7 linked regions of the Homo sapiens genome follow. The protein of the gene in region 1 purifies or fractionates together with the protein of each later gene. This does not show direct contact. Each region holds a gene or a part of one and is shown in the gene's direction. Other genes may lie near its edges.

The links.
Region 2: the proteins of WAPL (region 1) and UPF3A purify together in Homo sapiens (affinity purification with mass spectrometry; one large-scale study listed by BioGRID and IntAct). This does not show direct contact.
Region 3: the proteins of WAPL (region 1) and HTR1E purify together in Homo sapiens (co-immunoprecipitation; one large-scale study listed by IntAct). This does not show direct contact.
Region 4: the proteins of WAPL (region 1) and RIC3 purify together in Homo sapiens (co-immunoprecipitation; one large-scale study listed by IntAct). This does not show direct contact.
Region 5: the proteins of WAPL (region 1) and PWP2 purify together in Homo sapiens (affinity purification with mass spectrometry, with the first as the bait; one large-scale study listed by BioGRID). This does not show direct contact.
Region 6: the proteins of WAPL (region 1) and USP13 purify together in Homo sapiens (affinity purification with mass spectrometry; 2 studies listed by BioGRID, with this or other methods). This does not show direct contact.
Region 7: the proteins of WAPL (region 1) and ZSWIM9 purify together in Homo sapiens (affinity purification with mass spectrometry; one large-scale study listed by BioGRID and IntAct). This does not show direct contact.

The regions. Positions count from the first base shown.
Region 1 is NC_000010.11:86,515,109-86,519,293, reverse strand, and holds part of WAPL (wings apart-like protein homolog), read left to right. Parts: intron 1-1,202; 5' UTR 1,203-1,224; coding exon 1,225-1,723; intron 1,724-4,185. UniProt on the Homo sapiens protein: Regulator of sister chromatid cohesion in mitosis which negatively regulates cohesin association with chromatin. Involved in both sister chromatid cohesion during interphase and sister-chromatid resolution during early stages of mitosis.
Region 2 is NC_000013.11:114,298,408-114,302,592, forward strand, and holds part of UPF3A (regulator of nonsense transcripts 3A), read left to right. Parts: intron 1-432; coding exon 433-593; intron 594-3,323; coding exon 3,324-3,618; exon of another isoform or gene 3,619-3,644; intron 3,645-4,185. UniProt on the Homo sapiens protein: Involved in nonsense-mediated decay (NMD) of mRNAs containing premature stop codons by associating with the nuclear exon junction complex (EJC) and serving as link between the EJC core and NMD machinery.
Region 3 is NC_000006.12:86,943,754-86,947,938, forward strand, and holds part of HTR1E (5-hydroxytryptamine receptor 1E), read left to right. Parts: intron 1-4,185. UniProt on the Homo sapiens protein: G-protein coupled receptor for 5-hydroxytryptamine (serotonin). Also functions as a receptor for various alkaloids and psychoactive substances.
Region 4 is NC_000011.10:8,141,027-8,145,211, reverse strand, and holds part of RIC3 (protein RIC-3 isoform a precursor), read left to right. Parts: intron 1-4,185. UniProt on the Homo sapiens protein: Molecular chaperone which facilitates proper subunit assembly and surface trafficking of alpha-7 (CHRNA7) and alpha-8 (CHRNA8) nicotinic acetylcholine receptors.
Region 5 is NC_000021.9:44,120,673-44,124,857, forward strand, and holds part of PWP2 (periodic tryptophan protein 2 homolog), read left to right. Parts: coding exon 1-106; intron 107-279; coding exon 280-430; intron 431-1,504; coding exon 1,505-1,685; intron 1,686-3,907; coding exon 3,908-4,055; intron 4,056-4,185. UniProt on the Homo sapiens protein: Part of the small subunit (SSU) processome, first precursor of the small eukaryotic ribosomal subunit.
Region 6 is NC_000003.12:179,785,540-179,789,724, forward strand, and holds the end of USP13 (ubiquitin carboxyl-terminal hydrolase 13), read left to right. Parts: 3' UTR 1-3,862; downstream 3,863-4,185. UniProt on the Homo sapiens protein: Deubiquitinase that mediates deubiquitination of target proteins such as BECN1, MITF, SKP2 and USP10 and is involved in various processes such as autophagy, endoplasmic reticulum-associated degradation (ERAD), cell cycle progression or DNA damage response.
Region 7 is NC_000019.10:48,183,920-48,188,104, forward strand, and holds part of ZSWIM9 (uncharacterized protein ZSWIM9), read left to right. Parts: intron 1-4,185.

The DNA.
Region 1 (4,185 bases):
ATGTTTGAACTGTAGAAAGGTCAAAGTGTTAGACAAACGGTTACTGATTGATCATGTTTAAAAAGTACTATAACTTTTTAATAGGCACAGAACTAATGCAAGTAACTTGTTTTAAAAAATGTTTGACTCTTGATTTACTGCCCTAAAGATTTTTTTTTTTGTCCTGTGAAGTAGATAAATCAGGTGAATCGATTTGCCATTTATAAATTGAAAAGGAAAATAAAAGTTGTATGTTTCTATGTCTGTATTAATCCATGAAACAGTGTAATATGCTGGAGCTCACTAGCCCCAGAAAATATAACTCAGCAAATGAGCACAGCACTATCGGGACAAGGCAGATAGGATAAGGATAGTTTCTTTCCCTAGGGAGATGACCATCTAAGGAACATTTTTAAAGTCACAGCGCAAATTACATTACACCAAGAAGCAGAATCTTCAAGATTGGGTTAAAAGCTGCAGGTTGTAAAACATGAGAAAAAGCACCATTTTGGGGACCTTTTTTCTCATGTGAATTAGTGCCATGAAATTTCAAAGAACTAAATTTAATCAAGTATTGGATATTTCTGAGGCCCTGAAAAAAACTAACATTCTGTGCTTAAGATTTTATATAAGTAATTACCCTATACAGGTTATCATTATATCACTGCAACCTCCATCTCCTGAGTTCAAGCGGTTCTTCTGCTCCAGCTTCTCAAGTAGCTGGGATTACAGGTGCGTGCCACCACTCCCAGCTAATTTTTGTATTTTTAGTAGAGATGGGGTTTCACCGTGTTGGGCAGGCTGGTCTCAAACTCCTGGCCTCAAGTGAGCTGCCTGCCTCGGCCTCCCAGCCTCTATACAGATAATTTTTTAAGGTAAAAATGATGTTTATAAGAATAGTAAATTAATTCATTTGGAACTTAATATGCTTCATTTTAAGTTAGCTTTATGGATATCGTATTATAAGTTGGTTAATCATTAAGTTTTTTTACTTTGTAAGTAGCGTAGGAATATGTACTCATTGTGGAGGAAAATTGACATGGAAGCATGTAGGGTAATAAATCAGCCTTTCTTTATACCCCTTCCTCATATTTGTTTATTTAAAAGTCTGTGTGGTGAGTGTCAAAAGTCATGAGGGAAGAATCCCTAGGTTTTTATTTTTATATGCACTGTTTAACACTTGTATTTGATGATTATATGTTTTCTTAAATTTTTTTTCACAGAGAATATGAAACTGGTGTCAAAATGACATCCAGATTTGGGAAAACATACAGTAGGAAAGGTGGAAATGGCAGTTCAAAATTCGATGAAGTCTTTTCCAACAAACGGACTACCCTTAGCACAAAATGGGGAGAGACCACATTTATGGCTAAATTAGGGCAGAAGAGGCCCAATTTCAAACCAGATATCCAAGAAATTCCGAAGAAACCTAAAGTGGAAGAAGAAAGTACTGGAGATCCTTTTGGATTTGATAGTGATGATGAGTCTCTACCAGTTTCTTCAAAGAATTTAGCCCAGGTTAAGTGTTCCTCTTATTCAGAATCTAGTGAAGCTGCTCAGTTGGAAGAGGTCACTTCAGTACTTGAAGCTAATAGCAAAATTAGTCATGTGGTCGTTGAAGACACTGTCGTTTCTGATAAATGCTTCCCTTTGGAGGACACTTTACTTGGGAAAGAAAAGAGCACAAACCGAATTGTAGAAGATGATGCAAGCATAAGTAGCTGTAATAAATTAATAACTTCAGGTAAGTTTTGATTTTCTTTATTCTCCGCCAAGAGAGCTTTGTGCAACCAATTTATTTAAATGATTTAAATTCTAAAATATATATTGTGTTTTCTTTCTGCACTTATGATACATGGGGACCATTGATAGTTTTGTAAAAGACATTTAAGAACTTTAAAGAAACCAGTTGGAGGTTGAAATAAACAACTTGGATGTTAACATTTATAGACTGTTGCGCAGGGTACGTTTTGGGAACAGTCATAAGTTTATAACCCCAATTCCAATAAGAAATATCTCTTTTTGTTGTGTTAGGATCACAAAGTATCTCATTTCTATTACTGTGGAGGATTTGGATGGTTATTGATAATGAAAATGAGATGAGTATTTAAAATGAGGATTAGTTACCAATGGTAGACTCTCTGCCAAAACTAGTTCAGAAAGATTAAGGGGGTATTGAGTGGAGACATTTAAAGAATTGAACTTGATTCCAAATTGAGATTAGTTTGGGGCCAGTATCAACTTGTATTGATAGATTTTTTTTTTTGAGAAGGAGTCTCGCTGTCGCCCATGCTGGCTCCGCCTCCCAGGTTCATGCCATTTTCCTGCCTCAGCCTCCCGAGTAGCTGGGACTACAGGCGCCCGCCACCACGCCTGGCTAATTTTTGTATTTTTAGTAGAGACAGGGTTTCACTGTGTTAGCCAGGATGGTCTCCATCTCCTGACCTCGTGATCTGCCCGCCTCACCTCCCAAAGTGCTGGGATTACAGGCATGAGCCACCGTGCCCGGCTGTGTTGATAGATTTTAAACCACAAAACTGGTTGTATTTTAAAAATGTTAATTTGTAAATATAGCATCTAGTATTCTCTCCTAAAACGATATATTTTGTTCTGTCTTCTGTAAGGGATTTGAGATTTATAATAAGTGAAAAAGGTGCAATTAATTAAAAGACTGAAGAGCTAATATTGAGGGTGGCAGGGAAGAGGTGGGGTGGAGAAGTGGGAGCACTCTATCAGCATTAGGATAAGGGTGGCAGTATACTGTAATTGAAAAGAAACCTTAGTTCTTGACGTCTTGGCAAAGTTTAGCAATAATGAGAGGTTATAAAAATCTCCTATTTTGAAAGGAAGTAAACACAGACAAAACTTGGCTGTACTGAATTCTTAAGGCAAATTTGTCCTTTGAAGGTTAAGGTATGTGAAACAGTACAATGTACTGGGCCTTGCATAGTTTTACTAAAAATGTTGAGCATTTTTTCACTCTTTTTCTCACTCTTGGATGAGACGATGAGCCAGCTGTTATTGTCATTCCCTTGATCCTCAGGGTTAATTCTAATTTGGCTGTCCTTCCTGCTTTGCCCACATTTCTCCTCAGGCGTTGTTGACAAGTTAAGTTTAGGTTAAATTTCCATTAAAAAACAGCGTAAAGGACCTGTGCAGTGGCTCATGCCTGTAATCCCAGCACTTTGGGAGGCCAAGGCAGTTGGATCACCTGAGGTCAGGAGTTCAAGACCAGCCTGGCCAACATGGTGAAACCCCATCTCTATTAAAAATACAAAAAATTAGCTGGGCATGGTGGCGGGTGCCTCTAAATCCCACCTACTACGGAGGTTGAGGCAGGAGAATCACTTGAACCCAGGAGACAGAGGTTGCAGTGAGCCGAGATCGCACCACTGCACTCCAGCCTGGGCAACAAAGCAAGATGCCATCTCAAAAAAAAAAAAAAAAAAAGGCATAGACAGCATAAAAACTGTTTCCAGGTCAGCTCCTAAAAATGTATAAATGTATATTAAAATCATCAAACTTTTTTTTTTGAGACACAGTCTCGCTGTGTTGCCCAGGCTGTAGTACAGTGGCGCAGTCTTGCCTCACTGCAACCTCCGCTTCCCGGATTCAAGTGATTCTCCCACCTCAGCCTCCCCAGTAGCTGGGATTATAGGCACCTGCCATCATGCCCAGGTAATTTTTGTATTTTTGTAGGGACAGGTTTTCACCGTGTTGGCCAGGCTAGTCTCAAACTCCTGACCTCAAGTGATCTGCCTATCTAGGCCTCCCAAAGTGCTGGGATTGCAAGCGTGAGCCATCGCTTCTGGCCCATCAAACTTTTTTTGAACTAAAATGAATTTTAACTCAGCTCTCATTTTATATAAGAAGCTCAAAGAGGTTAAATGACTGTCCAAGGTCAGCTAGTGGCAGAACTGGAATGAGATTCGTTTATTATCAACATATTGAGCACCTACTGTCCGTCAAACCACTGTACAAGGCTCTGCGAATGCTATTCTGCTTGTGTTTGTTGTTCCAACTGACATTTCTTTTTTTTCTTTTTTTTTTTTGAGATGAAGTCTCGCTCTTGTCCCCCCAGGCTGGAGTGCGATGGCGCTATCTTGGCTCACTGCAACCTCCGCCTCTCGGGTTCAAGCAATTCTCCTGCCCCAGTCCCCCCGAGTAGCTGGGATTTTAGGCACCTGCCACCATGCCCTGCTAATT
Region 2 (4,185 bases), on another chromosome or scaffold:
CGCATGCCTGTCGTCCCAGCTACTCAGGAGGTGGAGGCAGGAGAATCACTTGAACCTTGGAGGCGGAGGCTGCAGTGAGCCGGGAGTGCGCCACGGCACTTCAGCCTGGGCGACAGAGCGAGACTCTGTCTCAAAAGAGAAAAGTGTAAGTGAGATTGTGGTGCATGTTCTGTTTTTTAGCCCTTTATTCATTACGTGAACATCTTTGCATCACATTAACCTACCTTACTTTTCATGACTAAAAAATATTTCATTCACTGAATGTTCCACCACGTATTAAACCAAAAACCTCATTTTTGGACCTTTAGCTTTAATTCTTTGCTGTGCAAACATTTGGCTTCAATATTGGGGTATATTTGTAATTATTTATTTAACAGCTTCTTTTAAAATATGCTCTCAAGGTGATACTTTACTAACATTGTAATTTCTCAGCTTCTTAAGAAACCAGAAAAGGGAGAGGAACCAACCACAGAGAAACCAAAAGAAAGAGGAGAGGAGATTGATACTGGAGGTGGCAAGCAGGAATCCTGTGCCCCCGGTGCAGTCGTAAAAGCCAGGCCCATGGAAGGCTCGCTGGAGGAGCCCCAGGAGACGTGAGCGTGCTTTCATTGTTATGACCACGTCAGCTCCCAGTCATGGTGACGTAGGCTTTGTCAGTATGAGTATGCCTATTTCACACTGTTCTTGGAATCCAAGACTTTCCAGGGTGTGCGAGTACACGTTAGCCTTCATTTCCCATCAGCATGGCAGGAACGTAGTGAACTCGTCTTGTCTGCAGTCTCAAGTCTGTCTTCAGATCGGGAGTTTCTTCCTGTTGTTTGCTTTGCTTTTGCCTCCATGTCCTCCTTTTACTCCTGAGCCGCCTCCTGGATTCCTGCTGTTGCATGTCAGGTCTTCAGGATCTGTCTTCCCAGTCTTTCTTTTTGTTTTTTGTTTTTTATTTTTCTCTGTGTTTGTGATATCTTGCCCTTTGCTCTTTTATCCCCCTTGCAATTTATCTACAGAATTGCATATTTGGGAACCCCCTCTTTTAGGTCTGGCAGATCTTTTGTGATAGAGAAACAGAATTTTAAGTGCTGTGATCCTTTGGTTGAAGCTGTCCCTGGCTCCTCTGGCTGTGGATCTTGACCAGCAGCTTTGGCTGTGCACTGTGGGTCCTCCCTTTTTCTTTTCCTTTGCTGCATATGACAGTGCAGCTCTATGGAGGGAGCTCATCTGCGAAAGGGACAGACACAGCATTATCTGCCCGGTGGGCCAGAGAGACCAGCCAGATGCCAGTCAGGAGGGATCCTGTCCCTCTTGCTCCTGGCATCCACCATCCTCAGGGCCCCAGGCACCTGGGCTTACCTTCCCCTCCGGGACTCCTGCCCACTCACTGCCTCTCGCCACCCACAGTCTCCTGGTGCCCAGGGCCACTTGGCCCACAGGGGATGATGGACGTGGATTTTAGGTGGGAAGACTAATGCGATTAGGCTGCCGGCTTCCCAGAGCCATAGTCGTAGGTGTGATTTCTCACTGCCTTTCGTTCAGAGTTGATGAAGTATTTTTTCTACTTCTTGGGAGTTTTGGTTTATTGCTTTGTTTATAAAATTTATATATGATTATCAAATCCATGATTGTGAAGCACTGTGATGATGTTACCGGTGTTGTTACTGTGACAGTTGATGACACAGCAGGACCTACTGCCACGTGTCTGCTGTGAATTCATACTTGGTTACAGATCCTTATGGTCCCCAACAGCCCTGGCAAATGAGCGAAGCAGCCATTTATTTACTATTCATTTAATATTCTGATAAATGCATAAAGATAATTAATCTGCCATTATTAAATGTCAGTTAATTTTACTCTGCACATCATGATGGATGTGCACCTGGGCTCCCAGGACAGCCACTGGACCACTTTAGTCTCAGTCATTTTATCTGTAGAAAAGAAGGTTTATTTTATTTTGTTTTATTATTTTATTTTATTTTAATTTTATTTTTGAGACAAAGTCTCGCCCTGTCGCCCAGGCTGGAGTGCAGTGGCACGATCTCGGCTCACTGCAACCTCCGCCTCCCAGGTTTAAGCAATTCTGCTTCAGCCTCCCAAGTAGCTGGGATTACAGGCACCCGCCACCATGCCTGGCTAATTTTTGTTTTTTTTTTGTTTTTTTGAAACGGAGTTTTCCTCTTGCCCAGGTTGGAGTGCAATGGTGCGATCTCAGCTCACCACAACCTCTGCCTCCTGGGTTCGTGCAATTCTCCTGCCTCAGCCTCCTGAGTAGCTGGAATTACAGGCATGCCCCTCCATGCCTGGCTAATTTTGTATTTTAAGTAGAGACAGGGTTTCTCCATGTTGGTCAGGCTGGTCTCGAACTCCTGATTTTAGGAGATCTGCCTGCCTTGGTCTCCCAAAGTGCTGGGATTACAGGTGTGAGCCGCTGTGCCTGGCCTAATTTTTGTATTTGTAGTAGAGACAGGATTTCATCATGTTGGCCAGGCTGCTCTCAATCTCCTGACCTCAAATGATCTGCCTGCCCCTGGCGTCCCAGAGTGCTGGGATTACAGGCACATGCCACCACACCTGGCTAATTTTTGTATTTTCAGTAGAGAGGGGGCTTCACCATGTTGACCAGGCTGGTCTCCAACTCCTGGCCTCAGGTGATCCCACCCACCTTGGCGTCCCAAAGTGCTGGGATTTACAGGCGTGAGACACCATGCCTGGTCAAAAGAAGGTATTTACTTTGGAGGGTTATTGAGAATTAGAAAATATGTATAAAAAGTACCTTAGCATGGCCAGGCACGGTGGCTCACACCTGTAATCCCAGCACTTTGGGAGGCCAAGATGGGCATATCATAAGGTCAGGAGATCGAGACCATCCTAACTAACACAGTGAAACCCCGTCTCTACTAAAAATACACAAAAAATTAGCCGGGCGTGGTCGCGGGCACCTGTAGTCCCAGCTACTCGGGAGGCTGAGGCAGGAGGATGGTGTGAACCCAGGAGGCGGAGCTTTCAGTGAGCTGAGATCCCGCCATTTTACTCCAGCCTGGGCAACAGAGCGAGACTCCATCTCAGAAAAAAAAAAAAAAAGTACCTTAGTATAAGGCATATTGCCTATCTGTCACTCAACTGAAATGACAGATACTATTACTATGATTTATTCCTCTTTGTAGTGGTTTTTATCAACGCCTGCTGTGTGCCCATCGCAGTGCAGCCTCAGCAGTGCAGCGCTGAGCACTTCGCATGGGTCCCTGTTGTCTGGGAACCTGTGGTCTAGAAAGGAGGGTGGGCAGCCAACCGGCGGTTTACTGCAGTTGCTGATCATTTGTGTTGAATCATAGGTCACACAGCGGCAGTGATAAAGAGCACAGGGATGTGGAGAGATCTCAAGAACAAGAATCTGAAGCACAAAGATACCATGTGGATGACGGCAGGAGGCACAGAGCTCACCACGAGCCTGAACGGCTTTCCAGAAGGAGTGAGGATGAGCAGAGATGGGGGAAAGGACCTGGCCAAGACAGAGGGAAGAAGGGGAGCCAGGACAGCGGGGCTCCGGGGGAGGCCATGGAGAGACTGGGAAGAGCGCAGAGGTGTGACGACAGTCCAGCACCCAGAAAAGAGCGACTGGCAAACAAGGTTTTTATTAAACCCAAAAAGAAAAATGTGTCTGGCTGTCTTAAGGTCCAGGCTGCATGCTGACCATGTCACCCCCACTTGGCCTTGTGTCTTGGGGAACGCAGTGCTTTGAGCATTTTCAAGAGCAGTTTTTCCTGAAAGTCAGATCCCAGAGTGAGACTAGTCATCATCTTTTCTCAGATAATCAAATTATTTTTCACCAGGAAAAAGAAAGATTTTATTTAGTATAAAACTAGCACGTTTATATGATTCACTTGAGAATAAGATTATTAAATTTACCCTTGAGACAGGAAGGAAAGTTTTAATGATATTTCATGGAGGTTTCTTCCACATTATTAACAACATTCTGATTATTGGTGAATATTCCCATGGCTCACAAACACCTGTAAGTTAGATCTGCACGGACGGTGAGCACAGGACTGTGGTTACCCCCTTAGCCAAGCAAACAACTTTTTTTTTTCAGGAGCTAATTTTTGTTCAGGTTGCATTTTCCCAGCGCAGCACTACAGATGGCATCACCTTTCTGACAGCACCAGGCCCCACCCTGGCCTCCTAGCAAACTGAGGG
Region 3 (4,185 bases), on another chromosome or scaffold:
TACTATGTCATAGGGCTATTTATGAGGATTAAATGTGTGTATTCATTATTGCTAAATAATAAATTACCCCAAAACCTAATGGCTTAAAGCAACAGATTTTTATTATCTCTATGATCATAGTTCCATGGGTTGGGAATCTGGGTATGGCTTAGCTAGGTCCTCTGGCTCAGGTCTGTCACTCACAGGCTGCAAAGTTTCAGCCGAGACTGCAGACATCTCAAGGCTCAACTGGGGAAAGGTAACGCTTCCAAGCTCGCTCACGTGGCTGTTGACAAGCCTCAGGTCCCAGCTGGCTGCTGGCTGGAGACGTTCTTTTGCTACCACATGGACCTCTCTATAGGGCTACTAACAAAACAGAGTGCTTCATGCAGATGTTGCAGCTTGCTGTCCTTGGAGCAAGGGCTAAGATTGAAAGATAGCAAAATAGAAGCCAAGGTCTTTTTGTAACCTGATATCAGAAGTGATATCCCATGGCTTCTGCTGTGTTCCTCATTAGAGACAAGTCACTAGTTTCAGCCTAATTCAAGGGGAAGGGATTACACAGTGGGAGGAATACCTACAGGAACCAAATCATTGAGAGCCACCTGAGATACTGCCTGCCACAATATAAGACATCAGAAGCTGTTTGATAAAGACTCAATTCAGTATCACCTCGTGGTTTTATCTCATAGTAATGTTCTCAGACTGAAATTAGATAATCTGTCAAAGAATTTGTAAAATATAAAGCTCTATACAATATCAAGATTTTATTAGTTTTATTAATGCTGAGAATCCAGTTCCACTTTATAGATAGTGATATAAGAACAGCAAATCAATGATTAAGAGATGTGAATTTTACACCTTGCTGTGTGTGTGACCTTGGAAAAGCCATTTATTTGTTTCATACCTTAGTTCTCTCATGAAAGTGATGATAATAACAGACTTACCAGGATAAAATAGATAATAGACAGCCATGCAGCACATTGACAATATTTTGGTCACCCACAAACCACATATATGACAGTGGTCCCACAAATTATAATGGAGCTGAAAAATTCCTACAGCCTAGTGACATCATCGCTATTGCAATGTTGTTGTAGCACAATGTATCGCTCATGTGCTTGTGATGAGGCTGGTGTAAGCAAACCTGTGCTGCCAGTTGTATAAAAGTATAGCACATACAATTATGTATAGTATATAATACTTGATAATAAACAACTGTTACTGGTTTATACATTTACTGTACTATACTTTTTATCATTATTTTGGGGTGTGTTCCTACTTAATTAAAAAAAAAAAGTGAAAAGAAGTTTAACTGTAAAACAGCCTCAGGCAGGTCCTTCAGAAGGTATCCCAGAAAACAGCATTGTTATTACAGGAGATGACAGCTCCATGCATGTTATTGCCCCGAAGGACCTTCCAACGGACAGGATGTGTAAATAGATACAGTGATACTGATAATCCTGAGCCTGTGTAGGCTAAGGCTAATGTGTCTGTATCTTAGTTTTGTTTGTTTGTTTGTTTGTTTGTTTGAGACAGAGTCTCAGTCGCCCAGGCTGGAGTGCAGCAGCACAATCTCACCTCATTGCAACCTCCGCCTCCCAGGTTCAAGCAATTCTCCCACCTCAGCTTCCTAGTAGCTGGGATTACAGGCACTCACCACCATGCCCAGCTAATTTTTTGAATTTTTAGTAGAGACGGGATTTCACCATATTGGCCATGCTGGTCTTGAACCCCCGACCTCAAATGATTCGCCCGCCTCAGCCTCCCAAAGTGCTGGGATTACAGGCGTGAGTATCTTAGTTTTTAACAAAAAAGTGTGAAAAGGAAAGAAAAAATTTAAAGTTTTAAAAATAGAAAAAAGTTTATAAAATAATGTTATAAATAATGAGAATATTTTTGTATAGCTATACAATGTGTTTTAAGCTAAGTGCTATTACAAAAAGAGTCAAAAAGGTTTTTTTAATTTAAAAGTTTGGGGGTTTTTTGTTTTGTTTTTGTTTTTGTTTTTGTTTTTTTGAGATGACGTTTCTTTCTTGCCTCCCAGACTGGAGTGCAGTGGCGTGGTGATCCCAGTTCACTGCAACGTCCGCCTCCCCAGTTTCAAGCAATTCTCCTGCCTCAGCCTCCCAAGTAACTGGGATTACAGGCATGTGCCACCATGCCCAGCTAAATTTTGTATTTTTAGTAGAGATGGGGATTCACTATGTTGGCCAGGCTGGTCTCAATCTCCTGACCTCAGGTGGTTTACCTGCCTCGGCCTCCCAAAGTGCTGGTATTACAGGCATGAGCCACCACACCCGGCCTAATTAAAAAGTTTATAAAGTAAAAAAGTTATAGTAAGATAAGGTTAACTTATTATTGGAGAGAGAAAAAATGGTTTTTACAAATTAGGTATAGCTTAAGTGTACAGTGTTTTTAAAGTCTACAGTAGTGTACAGTAATGTACTAGGCCTTCATATTCGCTCAACACTGACTCACTGACTCACCCAGAGCAGCTTCTAATCCTGCAAACTCCATTCATGATAAGTTCCCTACACAAGTATCCCATTTTTTATCTTTATACCATATTTTCACTGTACCCTTTCTACGTTTAGATACACAAATACTATTGTGTTACATTTGCCTACAGTATTCAATACAGTAACATGCTGTCTGGCTTTGTAGCCTAGAAGCAATAGGCTATGCCACATAGCCTAGGTGTGCAGTAGGCTACACCATCTAGGTTTGTGGAAGTACACATCTTGATGTTCACACAATGATGAAATGGCCTAACAATGCATTTCTCAGAATGTATGATGCATGGCTATATATAAAATTATGCTGAAATCTAAAAAAATGAGATGATGGTCATAATGACAATGATGAAGATGACTATATGTTTCAGCTTCTACTCCATGGTCCTTTGAGGACAACTGAAGTAACTAGATATGATTTTTGTCAGTTGTGTTTTAAGTGTATGTATCAAATCCAGCTACCCCAAGTTTTACAATAACTTTATATGGTTTAATCTTATCTTGCTGAACACATTAGATATGCTGCCCTGAAAAGTGGCTTGCAAACAGAATTTTTAGAAACTGAACCATAATTAAAATGCACAGAGGCCGGGCACGGTGGCTCACACCTGTAATCCCAGTACTTTGGGAAGCCAAGACAGGCGGATCACCTGAGGTCAGGAGTTTGAGACCAGCCTGACCAACATGAAGAAACCCTGTCTCTACTAAAAATACAAAATTAGCCATGCGTGGTGGCACATGGCTGTAATCCCAGCTACTCAGGAAGCTGAGGCAGGAGAATCGCTTGAACCCAGGAGGCGGAGGTTGTGGTGAGCCGAGATCGCGCCATTGCACTCCAGCCTGGGCAACAAGAGCGAAACTCTGTCTCAAAAAAAAAATGCACAGAGAAGGTTTCCATGTATCTAGTGGAATTGTACAATGCTTATGTGATCTTGTGATATCATTAATATTTTGTAATATAAATAATTATCCTCATTATTTTAATTTTCTGGCATTGTAGCAACACCTGTATAAATATTTATAGTTACTTAAGAACTCACAAAACAACCTTTTGAAGTAGGCAAATAAAACCAACTCTTGGTTATCTCAAAGAGTTCTTTTTGTTTGATTCTTGTGTTATCTACATTTCTTCTCTCACTGTAAATTGGCATAAATTTGGCAGATACAAAACAAGTAAAGTTCAAACTCCTCCACTCAACCACTTTAAGGGATTTTTTTTCCTGCTTATAAGTATATCACATGTTCATTGTAGAAAATTTGGAAATGCAGAAAAGTATAAAAAATGTAGTTAAAGTTACTCTTATTGCCACCACCAAGAGGCAGCCACTATTGATACTTTGATGAATTTCTGCCTTAGTGCTTTCCCTCTCTATAGGGAGAAAAGAGTGGTTTCTTTTTCAATGAAATCAGGAGTATGTTATATACTTTTCTTGTGTTCTGCTTTCTCTAATTAACATTATTTTTTAAATGATATTTCCATTTATTGATTCAACAACATAAATTAGTAAATATTGACTATATCCAAAGTGGAATTTGGATGAACTGTAAGAAATATAGTTAATAATTGAATTCAGATTTTTTAAATCAATTCCAACAATTGTGAAGTAGTTTCTTTTCCTTTTTTTAAAAAATTTTACTTTAAGTTTGGTGATACATACGCAGAATGTGCAGGTTTGTTACATAGGTGTAC
Region 4 (4,185 bases), on another chromosome or scaffold:
TTTTTTTTTAATTTTTTTTTAATTTTTTTTTATTATACTTTAAGTTTTAGGGTACATGTGCACATTGTGCAGGTTAGTTACATATGTATACATGTGCCATGCTGGTGCGCTGCACCCACTAACTCGTCATCTAGCATTAGGTATATCTCCCAATGCTATCCCTCCCCCCTCCCCCCACCCCACCACAGTCCCCAGAGTGTGATATTCCCCTTCCTGTGTCCATGTGATCTCATTGTTCAATTCCCACCTATGAGTGAGAATATGCGGTGTTTGGTTTTTTGTTCTTGCGATAGTTTACTGAGAATGATGATTTCCAATTTCATCCATGTCCCTACAAAGGACATGAACTCTTCATTTTTTATGGCTGCATAGTATTCCATGGTATATATGTGCCACATTTTCTTAATCTAGTCTATCATTGTTGGACATTTGGGTTGGTTCCAAGTCTTTGCTATTGTGAATAATGCCGCAATAAACATACGTGTGCATGTGTCTTTATAGCAGCATAATTTATAGTCCTTTGGGTATATACCCAGTAATGGGATGGCTAGGTCAAATGGTATTTCTAGTTCTAGATCCCTGAGGAATCACCACACTGACTTCCACAATGGTTGAACTAGTTTACAGTCCCACCAACAGTGTAAAAGTGTTCCTATTTCTCCACATCCTCTCCAGCACCTGTTGTTTCCTGACTTTTTAATGATTGCCATTCTAACTGGTGTGAGATGGTATCTCATTGTGGTTTTGATTTGCATTTCTCTGATGGCCAGTGATGATGAGCATTTTTTCATGTGTTTTTTGGCTGCATAAATGTCTTCTTTTGAGAAGTGTCTGTTCATGTCCTTCACCCACTTTTTGATGGGGTTGTTTGTTTTTTTCTTGTAAATTTGTTTGAGTTCATCGTAGATTCTGGATATTAGCCCTTTGTCAGATGAGTAGGTTGCGAAAATTTTCTCCCATTTTGTAGGTTGCCTGTTCACTCTGATGGTAGTTTCTTTTGCTGTGCAGAAGCTCTTTAGTTTCATTAGATCCCATTTGACAATTTTGTCTTTTGTTGCCATCGCTTTTGGTGTTCTGGACATGAAGTCCTTGCCCATGCCTGTGTCCTGAATGGTAATGCCTAGGTTTTCTTCTAGGGTTTTTATGGTTTTAGGTCTAAGGTTTAAGGCTTTAATCCATCTTGAATTGATTTTTGTATAAGGTGTAAGGAAGGGATCCAGTTTCAGCTTTCTACATATGGCTAGCCAGTTATCCCAGCACCATTTATTAAATAGGGAATCCTTTCCCCATTGCTTGTTTTTCTCAGGTTTGTCAAAGGTCTGATCGTTGTAGATATGCGGCGTTATTTCTGAGGGCTCTGTTCTGTTCCATTGATCTATATCTCTGTTTTGGTACCAGTACCATGCTGTTTTGGTTACTGTAGCCTTGTAGTATAGTTTGAAGTCAGGTAGCATGATGCCTCCAGCTTTGTTCTTTTGGCTTAGGATTGCCTTGGCGATGCGGGCTCTTTTTTGGTTCCATATGAACTTTAAAGTAGTTTTTTCCAATTCTGTGAAGAAAGTCATTGGTAGCTTTATGGGGATGGCATTGAATCTGTAAATTACCTTGGGCAGTATGGCCATTTTCACGATACTGATTCTTCCTACCCATGAGCATGGAATGTTCTTCCGTTTGTTTGTATCCTCTTTTATTTCCTTGAGCAGTGGTTTGTAGTTCTCCTTGAAGAGGTCCTTCACATCCCTTGTAAGTTGGATTCCTAGGTATTTTATTCTCTTTGAAGCAATTGTGAATGGGAGTTCACTCATGATTTGACTCTCTGTTTGTCTGTTATTGGTGTATAAGAATGCTTGTGATTTTTGTACATTGATTTTGTATCCTGAGACTTTGCTGAAGTTGCTTATCAGCTTAAGGAGATTTTGGGCTGAGACAATGGGGTTTTCTAGATATACAGTCATGTCGTCTGCAAACAGAGACAATTTGACTTCCTCTTTTCCTAATTGAATACCCTTTATTTCCTTCTCCTGCCTAATTGCCCTGGCCAGAACTTCCAACACTATGTTGAATAGGAGTGGTGAGAGAGGGCATCCCTGTCTTGTGCCAGTTTTCAAAGGGAATGCTTCCAGTTTTTGCCCATTCAGTATGATATTGGCTATGGGTTTGTCATAGATAGATCTTATTATTTTGAAATACGTCCCATCAATACCTAATTTATTGAGAGTTTTTAGCATGAAGGGTTGTTGAATTTTGTCAAAGGCTTTTTCTGCATCTATTGAGATAATCCTGTGGTTTTTGTCTTTGGCTCTGTTTATATGCTGGATTACATTTATTGATTTGCGTATATTGAACCAGCCTTGCATCCCAGGGATGAAGCCCACTTGATCATGGTGGATAAGCTTTTTGATGTGCTGCTGGATTCGTTTTGCCAGTATTTTATTGAGGATTTTTGCATCAATGTTCATCAAGGATATTGGTCTAAAATTCTCTTTTTTGGTTGTGTCTCTGCCCGGCTTTGGTATCAGAATGATGCTGGCCTCATAAAATGAGTTAGGGAGGATTCCCTCTTTTTCTATTGATTGGAGTAGTTTCAGAAGGAATGGTACCAGTTCCTCCTTGTACCTCTGATAGAATTCGGCTGTGAATCCATCTGGTCCTGGACTCTTTTTGGTTGGTAAACTATTGATTATTGCCACAATTTCAGCTCCTGTTACTGGTCTATTCAGAGATTCAACTTCTTCCTGGTTTAGTCTTGGGAGAGTGTATGTGTTGAGGAATTTATCCATTTCTTCTAGATTTTCTAGTTTTTTTGCGTAGAGGTGTTTGTAGTATTCTCTGATGGTAGTTTGTATTTCTGTGGGATAGGTGGTGATATCCCCTTTATCATTTTTTATTGTGTCTATTTGATTCTTCTCTCTTTTTTTCTTTATTAGTGTTGCTAGCGGTCTATCAATTTTGTTGATCCTTTCAAAAAACCAGCTCCTGGATTCATTAATTTTTTGAAGGGTTTTTTGTGTCTCTATTTCCTTCAGTTCTGCTCTGATTTTAGTTATTTCTTGCCTTCTGCTAGCTTTTGAATGTGTTTGCTCTTGCTTTTCTAGTTCTTTTAATTGTGATGTTAGGGTGTCAATTTTGGATCTTTCCTGCTTTCTCCTGTGGGCATTTAGTGCTATAAATTTCCCTCTACACACTGCTTTGAATGCGTCCCAGAGATTCTGGTATGTTGTGTCTTTGTTCTCGTTGGTTTCAAAGAACATCTTTATTTCTGCCTTCGTTTCGTTATGTATCCAGTAGTCATTCAGGAGCAGGTTGTTCAGTTTCCATGTAGTTGAGCGGTTTTGAGTGAGATTCTTAATCCTGAGTTCTAGTTTGATTGCACTGTGGTCTGAGAGAGTTTGTTATAATCTCTGTTCTTTTACATTTGCTGAGGAGAGCTTTACTTCCAAGTATGTGGTCAATTTTGGAATAGTTGTGGTGTGGTGCTGAAAAAAATGTATATTCTGTTGATTTGGGGTGGAGAGTTCTGTAGGTGTCTATTAGGTCCACTTGGTGCAGAGCTGAGTTCAATTCCTGGGTATCCTTGTTGACTTTCTGTCTCGTTGATCTGTCTAATGTTGACAGTGGGGTGTTAAAGTCTCCCATTATTAATGTGTGGGAGTCTAAGTCTCTTTGTAGGTCACTCAGGACTTGCTTTATGAATCTGGGTGCTCCTGTATTGGGTGCATATATATTTAGGATAGTTAGCTCCTCTTGTTGAATTGATCCTTTACCATTATGTAATGGCCTTCTTTGTCTCTTTTGATCTTGTTGGTTTAAAGTCTGTTTTATCAGAAACTAGGACTGCAACCCCTGCCTTTTTTTATTTTCCATTTGCTTGGTAGATCTTCCTCCATCCTTTTATTTTGAGCCTATGTGTGTCTCTGCACGTGAGATGGGTTTCCTGAATACAGCACACTGTTGGGTCTTGACTTTATCCAATTTGCCAGTCTGTGTATTTTAATTGGAGCATTTAGTCCATTTACATTTAAAGTTAGTATTGTTATGTGTGAATTTGATCCTGTCATTATGATGTTAGCTGGTGATTTTGCTCGTTAGTTGATGCAGTTTCTTCCTAGTCTCGATGGTCTTTACATTTTGGCATGATTTTGCAGCGGCTGGTACCGGTTGTTCCTTTCCATGTTTAGCGCTTCC
Region 5 (4,185 bases), on another chromosome or scaffold:
GTTCTCCTGTGTGGCGGTGGATGCGAGCGGTGAGATCGTCTCTGCAGGGGCGCAGGACTCCTTTGAGATTTTCGTGTGGTCCATGCAGACAGGCAGGCTCCTTGATGTAAGCACCCTGAGGGGCTGGGCTGGGGCTCAGGAGGGGCCCTCCTGTCTCCTGGGAGAGGAGCGCAGGGAGCTGAGGTTACACTCCGAGGGCCCATGCCCCTGGCCCAGAGCTGCCCAGAGAGCCGCCTCGGCCGCCACCTCCACTCTTCACGCCTCCTTGCTCTACGGTAGGTTTTGTCTGGACACGAAGGGCCCATCAGTGGTCTGTGTTTTAACCCAATGAAGTCCGTCCTGGCCAGTGCCTCCTGGGACAAGACAGTGCGCCTATGGGACATGTTTGACAGCTGGAGGACCAAGGAGACGCTGGCCCTGACCTCTGATGGTGAGCACGAGGCAGCAGGCAGGAGCAGCGGCCTGGGGACCAGCAGCATGCTGTCACACCCACTGCCCTGTTCCTCGTTGTGGGTTTGGTGTGAACCTTCTGGTGGGAAGCAGGGGGTGGCTTTTATCCAGACCTGCTGGTGTGGCAGCCCTTGAGGTTGGCAGTACCTAGGAGACAGCAGATTGGCGAGTCAGGCCAGCGTGGCTTCCACAAGTCCTTGTGGGGCTCCCGCTCTGTGGGCAAGTACGCCAGGCAGGAGAGAACAGCTCCCCGAGGGTGAAGGGCTGCTGCCGCAGCTGCTTCCTGATTTTCGGAGTTGCTTTGGAGCTCTGCCAGGGCTGTGTCACTGGGAGAAGGACACAGGGACCATGGGGGGCCCAGACGCTGGATGCGGCCAGTCCCGGAATCTGCAGACTGGGAGAAGGATGAGGGGGCCATAGGTGGGCCCGGAAGCCAGATGCGGCTGCCCAGGGATCTGCAGACTGGCCTCAGGCCACTGCCTGTCTTTCTGACGGGGCTGTACTAGAGGCAGCCGTGGCCTCCTGTGTTCATATGGTCTGTGGCTGTCAATGCCTCAGCGGCGGTGTTGAAAGACCACGTGGCTCACAAAGACCCAGCCCATCCATGTCCGGGTGTGGACAGACTCTGCCATCCCAGGAGGCTGGTTCTCTCTGCTTCCCGCTGCCTCACCCCACCCCCAGGCCTGGCATTGGCCAGGCTTTTGGCATCACATGTGGCTTCTTTGCAGAGGCTCTGTATTCTAGTCTGTCCAGCCGCCCTCAGTAACCACCATCACTCACCCATCAGCCTCACCTTCCCAGCGCCCCCTCCATCGGCCTTTGTGGGTCCTGTGGCCCCAGCTGGACCGCCTGGTGCTCTTCACTGGCGCTGAGTTGTTCCTCACCTGTCTGGGTTGGAGCTTCTCCTGGGAGGAGATTCTTGTGTACCAGACCAAACAGGCGCTGGTCTCTTAGGGGTGCCAGGGCACGGCCTGGTCTCCAGCCAAGGGTGGTTGGTGGCCTGCCTGCGGGAGACTGGGGTCTTCGTTGGGCCTTACTTTGCATCTCTGTTTAGCTCTGGCTGTGACTTTTCGCCCTGATGGTGCGGAGCTGGCTGTGGCCACACTGAACTCACAGATCACCTTCTGGGACCCTGAGAACGCGGTGCAGACGGGCTCCATTGAGGGCAGGCATGACCTCAAGACTGGCAGGAAGGAGCTGGACAAGATTACAGCCAAGCACGCGGCCAAGGGGAAGTGAGTGTCAGCATCGGGCCTCCTGATTTGAGACCCCAGCCAGCCACCAGGCTCCTGCAGCTTCTCCATTTTTGGCCTTGTTCTTTGTTCCTGAGACCGCTGAGTCCCTGTGGGTGGAGGCAGGTGGTCCTGAGCCCTCTGGGGAGAGTCCATGTCCTCCTTAACTCCTGGGATCGCACAGCCCCCAGCACAGGAGGACGTCTGGATTTACTGAACATAAACTTGTTCAGCTGAGAGCTTGCATCCACTTCCAAACCTTGATCCTGAATTATGACATCGTCCTGGTGTGCAGAGGGGAGAGCAGCCGGGTGCCCGAGCTCACACTGGAGACCTGGCACTTGGGGAGGCTGAGGCGGGTGGTTTGCTTGAGCCCAGAAGTTTGAGACCAGCCTGGGCTACGTGGCAAAATGCCATCTCTACAAAAAGTAGAAAAATTAGCCAGGTGTGGTGGCACATGTCTGTGGTCCTAGCTAGTCGGGAAGCTGAGGCAGGAGGATCGCTTGAACCCGGGAGGTCAAGGCTGTAGTGAGGATGGCGTCATGCCATTGCACTCCAGCCTGGGTGCTAGAGCAAGACCCTGTCTCAAAAACAAAACAAACAAAAGCAGAAAACAGCCCTGGCAGCCTCCTAAGAGTAAAAATGCAGGTCCTCAGTCACCTCACTTGACTAGAGAGTGCTACGTGGATGGTGAAGACATAGTGTCCCCTTGTCTCAAGGAGTCGGGCCAGCACAGCACTGACCAAATTGCCTGCGCGGGGTCCTGGCTGGGCTGTGAGGCTCAACTGGGTGGGGGTCAGGCTTAGGAGAAGGGGGAGGATCTGTGGGATGTGCCCGGGGTGGGTGGCCTTGGGGGCTGGACCTGTGTCCCAGGAGCTCAGAACCTGTTCAGCAGAAGGTCTTCCTCCAGAAAGAAGTAGCGACCCTGTCTTGGAAGTGGTATGAATGCCTGTGTGCAGTCCTCATGGGTTCGCCCTGAGTGTGGAACTGCTGGGTGCTGGTGGTTCTGTTTCCAGCTTGGAGGAGCTGCACGGTTGCCATTCCCACGAGGAACGCTGTCGGCTTCTGGCTTCTCCACCTCCTCGCCAGCACTTGTTGCTTTATTATTATTATTTTTTTAATGAGAGCTGTTGGGGTGGATGTGAATTCGTATCTCATTGTAGTTGTGATTGTGGTTTCTCTAGTGACATTCAGCATTTTCTGTCTGCGGCTTGGCCGTTTGTAAGTCTTCTTTGGAGAAGTGTCTGTTCAGGTCTCTTGCCTGTTTTTGAATTGGGTTGTTTGGATTTTGGTTGTGGATTTTAGGGGTTTCTCTGATACCTGATGTGCAGATATTTGTTCCGCTTTGTGAACTGTCTTTCCACCGTTTTGGTGGCACTCTTAGTTCTGATGATGTCCACTTTGCTCATTTTTTCTGTTGTTCTTTGTTCTCTACTGTCATAACTAAGGGACCTTGCCCACCCCGAGGCGTCTGTTGAGCGGGGTGGTAAGGGCTGGTTTCTGGTTTCTGCAGGACTAAGCAGACGTGACTGAGAGTAGGCTGCTTAGGGTGGAGGCCGACTGGTCGCCGTTTTGTGCTGACCTCAGCAGGGAACACTGTTCCTTGAGCCACTTGTTCCTTTTGTGAAAAAGACATTGATTCTCAGGAAGCGGAAGCATCTAAGGGTGGTGCTGGCTCAGAGCGGAACCAGGTGATGGCACCATTGGACATTGTGGGTTTTAAAAGTCTCGCGTGAGTTGAGGCAGCGAGCCTTGGCGAAAGTTGCTGAGGCTGGTGTTTGCTTCCTGGAGGGCTGGTATAGGATCTCCTCTATTTCCTAAGGTTAGTTTTTATTTTATTTATTTTTATTTTTATTTTTATTTTTGATTTTTGACACGGTCTCGCTCTTGTCACCCAGGCTAGAGTACAGGAGTGCAATCATGGCTCACTGCAGCCTCCAACCCCTGGGCTCAAGTGATCCTCCCACATCAGCCTCCTGAGTAGCTGGGACTACAGGCATGTGCCACCGCACCCTGTTAATTTTATTTTTTGTAGAAACAGGGTCTTGGTATATTGTCCAAGCTTGTCTTGAACTCCTGGACTCAAGCAATCTTCCCAACTCAGCCTCCCAAAGTGCTGAGATAACAGGCGGGAGCCACCATGCAGGCCTAAAGTTGGTTTTTAGGAGCCATACGCTGAGGTTTCCGTGGTGGCCACCGTAAGTCCATGTCTCCTCTCCACCCAGGGCCTTCACCGCCCTGTGCTACTCTGCAGACGGCCACAGCATCCTGGCGGGAGGCATGTCCAAGTTCGTGTGCATCTACCACGTCCGTGAGCAGATTCTCATGAAGAGGTTCGAGATCTCTTGCAACCTGTCTTTGGACGCCATGGAGGTGAGCCGCCAGCGCGGGGCCGGATGGATGTTGCTTCCAATGCAGGTGGAATGCGTCGGGCTCCTGCGTTCTGCACTCCTGGCTCCATGGGGCCTTGGGCACAGTTGTGGTGCTTGTCCTGTATCTAAGT
Region 6 (4,185 bases), on another chromosome or scaffold:
TATTTGGTCAAACGAAAAAGAATTTATTGCTGTCTGTTTAACATGTATTTGTTTGGTTGAAAGGATCTTTTTAGAAACTGTAGGAAAATAAACAGAACCAACCAGGTGAAACAAAGCACAGACATTGGGTTAGGATGTAGTGAGTTGTGAACAATCAGGATTCTGGGTGTGATGGGGGTCCCTGTCTCATAGGTGATCCTTTGGTGCCATGTGACCGAGAGACATGGTGTCTAAGGCCCATGGCCTGGAGACCTGGGTGCTGCTCCTAGCTGACTGTGGACCTTGGGCAAGTCCTTCATCCGTCCTGTGCCTCACTGTCCTCATCTGAACAATGGTATGATGACACCTGCCCTCTCTTTCAATCATGCTTTGAGGATACAGTGAGATTGGTTACAGTGAACCTTCAATGAGTAGAATGTGGTATGCCATGGTGGGTTGTAGTAGATGGTGCTCCCTGCCTTTTCTCCTCTGTTTTCCTCAATTTGGGAACAAATGAGATTGGCAGAAGGAGGGAGCTCACGGTGCAGTACTTTTCTACCAAAGTGTGCCCACTGGTGTCACCTCCTAATGTTAACTTGGATTTCCTAAAGCAGTCCCACTCTGTTATGAGAGTCACTGACTCCCGTGGACATCCCCACAGTAAGCAGCCTTACAAAATCCAGTCCCCTTAGGGCAGAGTGAGTGTCATAGAATAATGACTCCAAACCCACGTCAAAAATGGCTTGTTTTCAGCGATGTTATAAAACAAAGGCCTGTTTTTTGGAATTGGGGGTGACTGGGTGGTTTGGATTGAAATGTGGACAAAGATAGCATGTGTATTTTGAATAAAATAAAAATTTTGTAATAAAACTTTTAAAAATCAGTGATGTAAAATCAATATTTAAGACTATAGGCTATAAATTGTTTGATTTCATTAACTAGCCCTTTTGATGCCTAGACATGTTGTAAAAAAATTGTGCTATGGCTGCCTTTTCTTCTGCCCCACAACACAAAGGGCTATTTCTACAAGGCAAAGTTTTGTATATGTGCTATTCTTTACTTCAGATTGAGAGTTGGGAAAAACTGGAGTAAATAATGGGTTTCTTACTTGCTTAAAAGCATATTTATATGTGTATCTCAATATATACAAGGCAGGTTCCCCTATAAAAGTCTGGAATGTACTGCTTAATTTTACACTTGTGTAGACACGATTATTTGTGACTGAAAAGTGGAATAACGTGTGGATTTTGTCAACTCATTATCAGTCTGTTAGCAGTCCTCTATGTGAGGCATGGTGGTCTAATTGTGAAATTCTCCCTGTATATGGGTGTCTGTGTGAAAGACAGCACTTTCTTCCTGTAAATATCTTTTGATATCCATTTATGTAGAATTCCAATGAATATGTCTTTGGAAAAGGTAATGTATCAAAGTTTTTATTTTGCCAATTGATCTAAATGCCCATATAACTAATCAGAAATCCAGTTTGGTTCAGATTGGGATTTTCTTTTAAAGAAAAAAAAAGTATGCAGAAAAGACTATTGGAAGAATCATGTGTTAGTGACACTTTACATCAACGTTGCTTCAATATTTTGGAATTGACCAGGCTGCTTTCTCCTACCTGCAAGAGAATGTGCCTGACATTTCCCAGTGCTTACTTTGGGCTATAGGAAGTCCAGCGGGGATAGCTCGAGCCTCTTGCTCCCTGAGTCATTTATTCCCTTTACCTGAACAGAGCCTTACCTGCAATTCATAGTGAGAGCACCTGGGTCTGTATCCTGACTCCACTCTAAGTGAGGTGGGACTGAATCACTGTACCTCTCTGGGCCTTTTCATTTGAAACAAGTGGGTTAGACTAGATTAGCTCCAAAGTCCTCTCTTGCCCTAACATTTTATTTTTATTTTCCTGTGGTTACCACTAGGGTCTGACACGTAAAATGTGAGGGATCACTTAGAGGTTTGGATGTTATATTTTTGCATTGTTACAGCTTATACTCCCCAGTTGAGGACCTGTGTCATTCTTAGTGGCCCCACGACCCCTCTGTTTGTATTCCTGCTCCACTTATCTATACTTTTTTGGGTAATCATCCCACTTTTTTTTTTTCTTGAGATGGAGTCTCGCTGTGTTGCCAAGGCTGGAGTACAGTGGTGCAATCTCAGCTCACTGCAGCCTCCTCCCGGGTTCAAGTGATTCTCCTGCCTCAGCTTCCCAAGTAGCTGGGATTACTGGCGCACGCCACTACGCCCAGCTAATTTTTGTATTTTTAGTAGAGACAGGGTTTTGCCATGTTGGCCAGGCTGGTCTTGAACTCTTGACCTCAACCTGCCTCAGCCTCCCAAAGTGCTGGGATTACACGCATGAGCTACCGCGTCCAGCCCCACTTTTTTTCTACTCTTGAAAAAAACAACTTTCTAGTCCATGAGGTACTTTGGCTCCATCCCCCTCAAAAACAAAACAAAAAATCCATTTAAAGTGTCCTCCTAGAAAAGCCTCAGAACTGCCTTCAACTACATCTGTCACCTTTATAGAATATTTTGAAATTCTGGAAGAGGATGGGAAACAAAATTCTAATTTAGCTAGAGCTGTGATCCCCAAATAAGTGCTGACAAAATTGTCTACCACAGAAAGGCCGTCCTTGTCATCTTGTAGGCATCACTGCTGCTAAATCACATCAGTACATGCCTTCTGTGGGGAGATGGCAGGGGGCAGGGGCAGGACCAGGGGATGGGATTAGATAAAGTGTGATAATGTCCTTTAGATAAAAGAAATCCTACGCTATAGAACAAGGTTCTGTACTCTTGAGTTGGTGTCTGAGATCACCTGCACAGTGTTACAGAGATTTTCCACTCCATAAATCACTCTAAAAGAGTTTGCATAAGACTCGGTAGACCTGTGCTATTCAATGTGGCAGTCAACAGCCATATGTGGCGATGACTACTCAAAGTTTGGCTTGTTCAAATCGAGACTGTGTTGTACACATACAATACACACCAGATTTTGAAGGCTTGGTACCAAAAAGGAATTTAAAATATTTCACCAATATTTCATATTGATAACATGCTGAAATGACACTATTTTGGATGTACTAAGTAAAATATTAACAATTTAATATATTTATATAATTGAAATTAAAATTCTTTTCACCCATTTTTATTTTTTTAAAAATGTGGCCCCTAAAGAACTTCAAATTAGACATGTGGATAACGTTATACTTCTATTGGACAGCCCCACTCTAGACTTACATGGTGTGGGGTAGGCAGTGAAATCCGTAAATAGGAAACGCAATTCTGCAAAGTATCTAAATAGACAGAAACAACACAAATATTTTTGCTGGAGTCAGGAGCACTGTGAGGCACAGAACATCTCCCAGAAAGCAGATTTTTTTTTTCTGCCGAAAAACCAATATATATATGTATGATCCCAATTAAAAGACAAAAGCAAATGAGCCCCAAACTGCCTGTCTTCAGCTTTGCCTGGGAGCTGCTACCTTTGCTCTTCTAGCATCTTCTAGGTACCAAGGATATTAGCCACTTGAGGGTGTTGGGCATATTTGTTTCATTGTAGGCAAAATCCTCTTGTGGTTTCCCCTCCCCAGGTATTGTTGAGTCTGTTCAAAGCTGGGTGTGTTGAAACACTGCACAAATCCTGCCACTCTTGATGTGCCGCTTGTCTCAGCCTTGGCAGAGGCTGAGTCTGTTCCTGTGCCCACCTGTCCAGCAGGTTTTGATGTTGGCTCCTGAAAGAGTTTGTATTTATTTTATTTTGCACTAGTCACAGTTGTTGTTAAACTGTATCAAATGTTTTGGGAGATTATTTGCCTGAGATGGAAAGAGAGATGGATGATTTATTGCTTCAATTGTTTTAAATTAAAAGCTATTCTCACAATCTGAGGCCCTTTATGGCTCTTTTTTTCTTTAATTTTGAAAAATGCCAAGTAAACGGATTCTGCCATTGATTGTTTTCATCTGTCAGTGGAACAGGTAACTTGAGACAATGACTAATCTTATTTCTTTTTAGGGGTTCTTGGCGTTACCAGGCAGCCATCACAGTGGACCATCAGTGGTGGCACATTGTTACCTCTGTGGAGGAGGGAGGATTTGGGGCAGGGCGGAGTCTCCTGCCTTGGACTTTATCTGCTGGATGTCATGTCACAGATCTTTCTCTTGTTCCCTAGATCTTGGTTTGCTGACAGCCCCCTTAACACATAT
Region 7 (4,185 bases), on another chromosome or scaffold:
CAGGCATGAGCCACCACGCCAGGCCTACTTAAATTTTTTTTTTTTTAATTGAACTGCACAAACAGAAAATGCACAAATGATAAATACTTAGTTTGATGAATGTTCTCAAGGGGAGAACACACCTGAACCCACCATGCAGATGGAGAATTAGGAGAAGGAAGAGTGCTATGTCCTGTAATGTGATGGAGCGATAAGTTATCATCAAGGAGAAAAAGGCCGGGGCCTGGAGCGGGACAGTTCTAAGGGTGCTGTTTGAATTGGTCAGGGAAGGTCTCTTTAGCAAATGATGGTGAAGCAGAGGAGATGGAACAGAGGCAAGGGACCCTCATTCTGTCATCAGAGGGAAGAGAATTCTAGGCAGAAGGAACAGCCAGTGCAAAGGCCCAGAGGCACGAGCAAGCTTGTGTTGGAGGAACAGTGAGGATGGCTGCTGCTCCATAAGGAATCTCTGCGGCTTTAATCCAACTTCAAGTTTGGGGTGAACTTGAAGTTTAAAGAGGAAAGAAAGATGAGAAAGTAGGGGAAGAACTGGTTTCTCCTCCTGGCTGTGCCTTTGTCTCCCTTGTGTGTGGAAGAGGTCCCAAGGCAGGGTAAAGTCGAGATTCAGCTCTGGCACACTCTTCCTGTCTTCATCTCATGCCCAGTAAGAAGCCCTGATTCAAGCCACCAGCCCAAGCCCAGGCCTCTGTCCCGACATAATAATAATTTTAGCTAATGTTTATCAAGCACTTACTATATGCCAGGCACTACCCTAAGTGCTTTACATACTATAACTCATTTTCATCTCACCTGAGCCCTATGAGGAAATAGTCCACCATTCTCATCCCCATTTTACAGACAAGGAAACTGAAGCACAGAGAAGTCAAGTAACTGGCTCAAAGTCACACAGCTATTTAGTGACAGAGCTGGGCTTCGGACCCACACAGCCTGGATCCAGACCCATGACCTTCACCATGGGGACAAACACACATGCACTTCCTACTCCACTGGTCTTTGCTGATCTAGTAACTCTCCTCCACTACCCACCATGACATAAATAAGCCTCAGCTGTTCTTCCCTGAACCCACCCTCTGCAGGATTGTCCCTGTGCAGAACAGCTCATTCATAGATCAGAGCCTTCCCTGGAAGGGGAGTTGTCTTTTCATTTTGAAGGCTGTCTTGGAATCTCGGCTAAACCACGGTTGGCTCCTGCGTCTGTGTTTTGACCTGCTTTCATACTTTTTTTTTTTTTTTTTTTGAGACGGAGTTTCGCTCTTGTCACCCAGGCTGGAGTGCAATGGCGGAATCTTGGCTCACCGCAACCTCCGCCTCCCGGGTTCAAACGATTCTCCTGCCTCAGCCTCCTGAGTAGCTGGGATTACAGGCATGCGCCACCATGCTAATTTTTGTGTTTTTAGAAGAGACGGGGTTTCTCCATGTTGGTCAGGCTGGTCTTGAACTCCTGACCTCAGGTGATCCCCCCGCCTTGGCCTCCCAAAGTGCTGGGATTACAGGCATGAGCCACCGTGCCCAGCCCCTTAATGCTCTTGAAAGAAAGGAGGAAGAAGTTCTAGGACAGGAGAGACAGATTAGTGAAGCAACATTTAAATATTTACTTTTTGAATATGTCATACATTCACATGGTTCTAAAAAAGGTATGTGGTGAAAAGTCTTATCACATCCTGTCCCCCAGGTCCCCTCCCCTGCAGAGTTATTAGCAGCTTATAAATCATATCTCGCTTTCTATCCTATGGACCAGCACTGCCCGGTGGAACTTTCTACAATGATAGAAATGTTCCTTATCCAGGCTAGGCATGGTTACTCACACCTGTAATCCCAGCACTTTGGGACTCTGAGGCAGATGGATCACCTGATGGCAGGAGTTCGAGACCAGCATGGCCAACATGGCAAAACCTGATCTCTACTAAAAATTCAAAATTAGCCAGGCATGGTGGCAGGTGCCTGTAATCTCAGCTACTCGGGAGGCTGAGGCACAAGAATCGCTTGAACCCAGGAGGCAGAGGTTGCAGTGAGCTGAGATTATGCCACTGTACTCTGGCCTAGGTAACAGAGTGACACTCTTGTCTAAAAAAATAAAAAGAAAGAAAATGGTTCTTATCTGTACTGTCCAATCCAGAGGCCACTGGCCACACATGGCTACAGAATGCTTAATGAGGCCAGTATGACTGAGGAACTGAATTTGTCATTTAATTTATCGAAATGTAAACAACCTAATGTAGCTAGTGGCTTCTGGATTGGACAGCGCAGCTCTGCACATATACAGGTCAATTTGCATGTCTGTATGTTTAACTTTAATTTTTAACTTTATTTCCTCTTTCTGCCCCGCCACCCCCCACCCCCAGCAAGCAGGGCAGCCTAGTGTACACGCTGTTTTTGTTTGTTTGTTTGTTTGTTCTTTGAGACAGGGTTTCACTCCTGTCACCCAGGCTGGAGTGCAGTGGCACGCTGTTGGCTCACTATAACCTCCACCTCCTGGGCTCAAGTGATTCTCCTGCCTCAGCCTCCTGAGTAACTGGGACTATAGGCATGCACCACCATGCCTGGCTAATTTTTGTATTTTTAGTAGAGACGAGGTTTCACCATGTTGGCCAAGCTGGTCTCAAACTCCTGACCTCAAGTGATCCACTCACCTTGGCCTCCTGAAGTGCTGGGATTACAGGTCGGGGCCACCACACCCGGCCTGTACATGCTGTTTTGCATCTTGCTTTATACGTTGGGGAGTGCCAGATGTCACCATCTTTCGTTCTTCCTCTGGGGCTGGTCAAATCCCCCTGAGAAAACTCCTCTGGCCTCCTGGCGGGGGGTGAAGGCCAGGCTGCCAGGGCCAGGCTGCCAGCTTCTGGGAGCTGCAGGGGCAGAGGCAGGGAGCTGTCAGGCATTCAGCCAGCAAGACGCACTCAGTACCCACTTGGGGTTCAGAATCCCCCTCCCTCATCTTCAGATGGGCCAGATGTCCCCAAAGCCAGCGGCCCCTTTCTGTTTCACCCTGTCTACAGAATAAACCCCCAGTCACTGGGGGTGGGGGAAGAGTAAGGGGAGAGGGGAAACGAGATTTGGAGGTCTAGCTGCTGCTGAAACAGCCCTCAGTTCGTCTTTATTTTGCCTTCTGCAAAACTGGCCTGGTGTTGCCAGCTCCTTTTGAGGACTTTGCTACCGGTTCTCAGCATCCCTCAATTGCTGGCTTAGGATTCATGGGTTTTTAGGGGTGGGGTGGGATTAGCATGTCCAGCTGCTTTCCAGTTTCCAAAGTTCTGTCCCTATCATATTGCCTCTGATTTAAAAAAAAAAAAAAGCCATTTTAAAAAAAAGATGTAATTGAGGTTCAAGAGAGAGTGAAACTAGAGAGGTGTTCAATCCATCACTTTTACACAGAAATTTCACCTTTTTTTCACTTATAAAATCTAATGAAAGAGTTCTATATTATTATGTTAATAATACAGTAGTAATATAACAGTATAATGTAATAATTAATATATTATATTAATTATATATTATAATTATATATTATATTATATTATATATATTATATATTATATATTAATTATATATATTATATATATTATATATTATATTATAATATATTATATTATATTATATATATTATATATTATATTATTATTATATTATATTATATATATTATATATAATATTATATATATTATATATTATATAATATAATATTATATATTATATTAATATTATAATATGTAACGCATAACATGTAATATTGATAATATAATAGGTGCGATGGCTCACACCTGTAATCTCAGCACTTTGGGAGGCCGAAGCGAGAGGATCACTTGAGCCCAGGAGTTCAAGACCAGCCTGGCCAACATAACGAGCACCTGTCTCTACAAAAAATTAAAAAAAAAAAAATTAGGCATGGTGGCATGCATCTGTAGTCCCAGCTACTCAAGAGGCTGAGGCACGAGGGTTGCTTGAGCCCAGGAGCTTCAGGCTGCAGTAAGCTATGATCACACCACTGTACTCCAGCCTTGACAACAGAGTGAGACCCTTTAAATAGATAGATAGATAGATAGATAGATAGATAGATAGATAGATAGATAGACAGACAGACAGCAAGCTTTAAATTTTCATCCCAAGCCTAGGTCAAGCAACAATCAGTCTTTCCACTTCCCAGCAGTCTTCCAAAGGAAGGATTATTTGTAAAAAGTGCCTGCACTT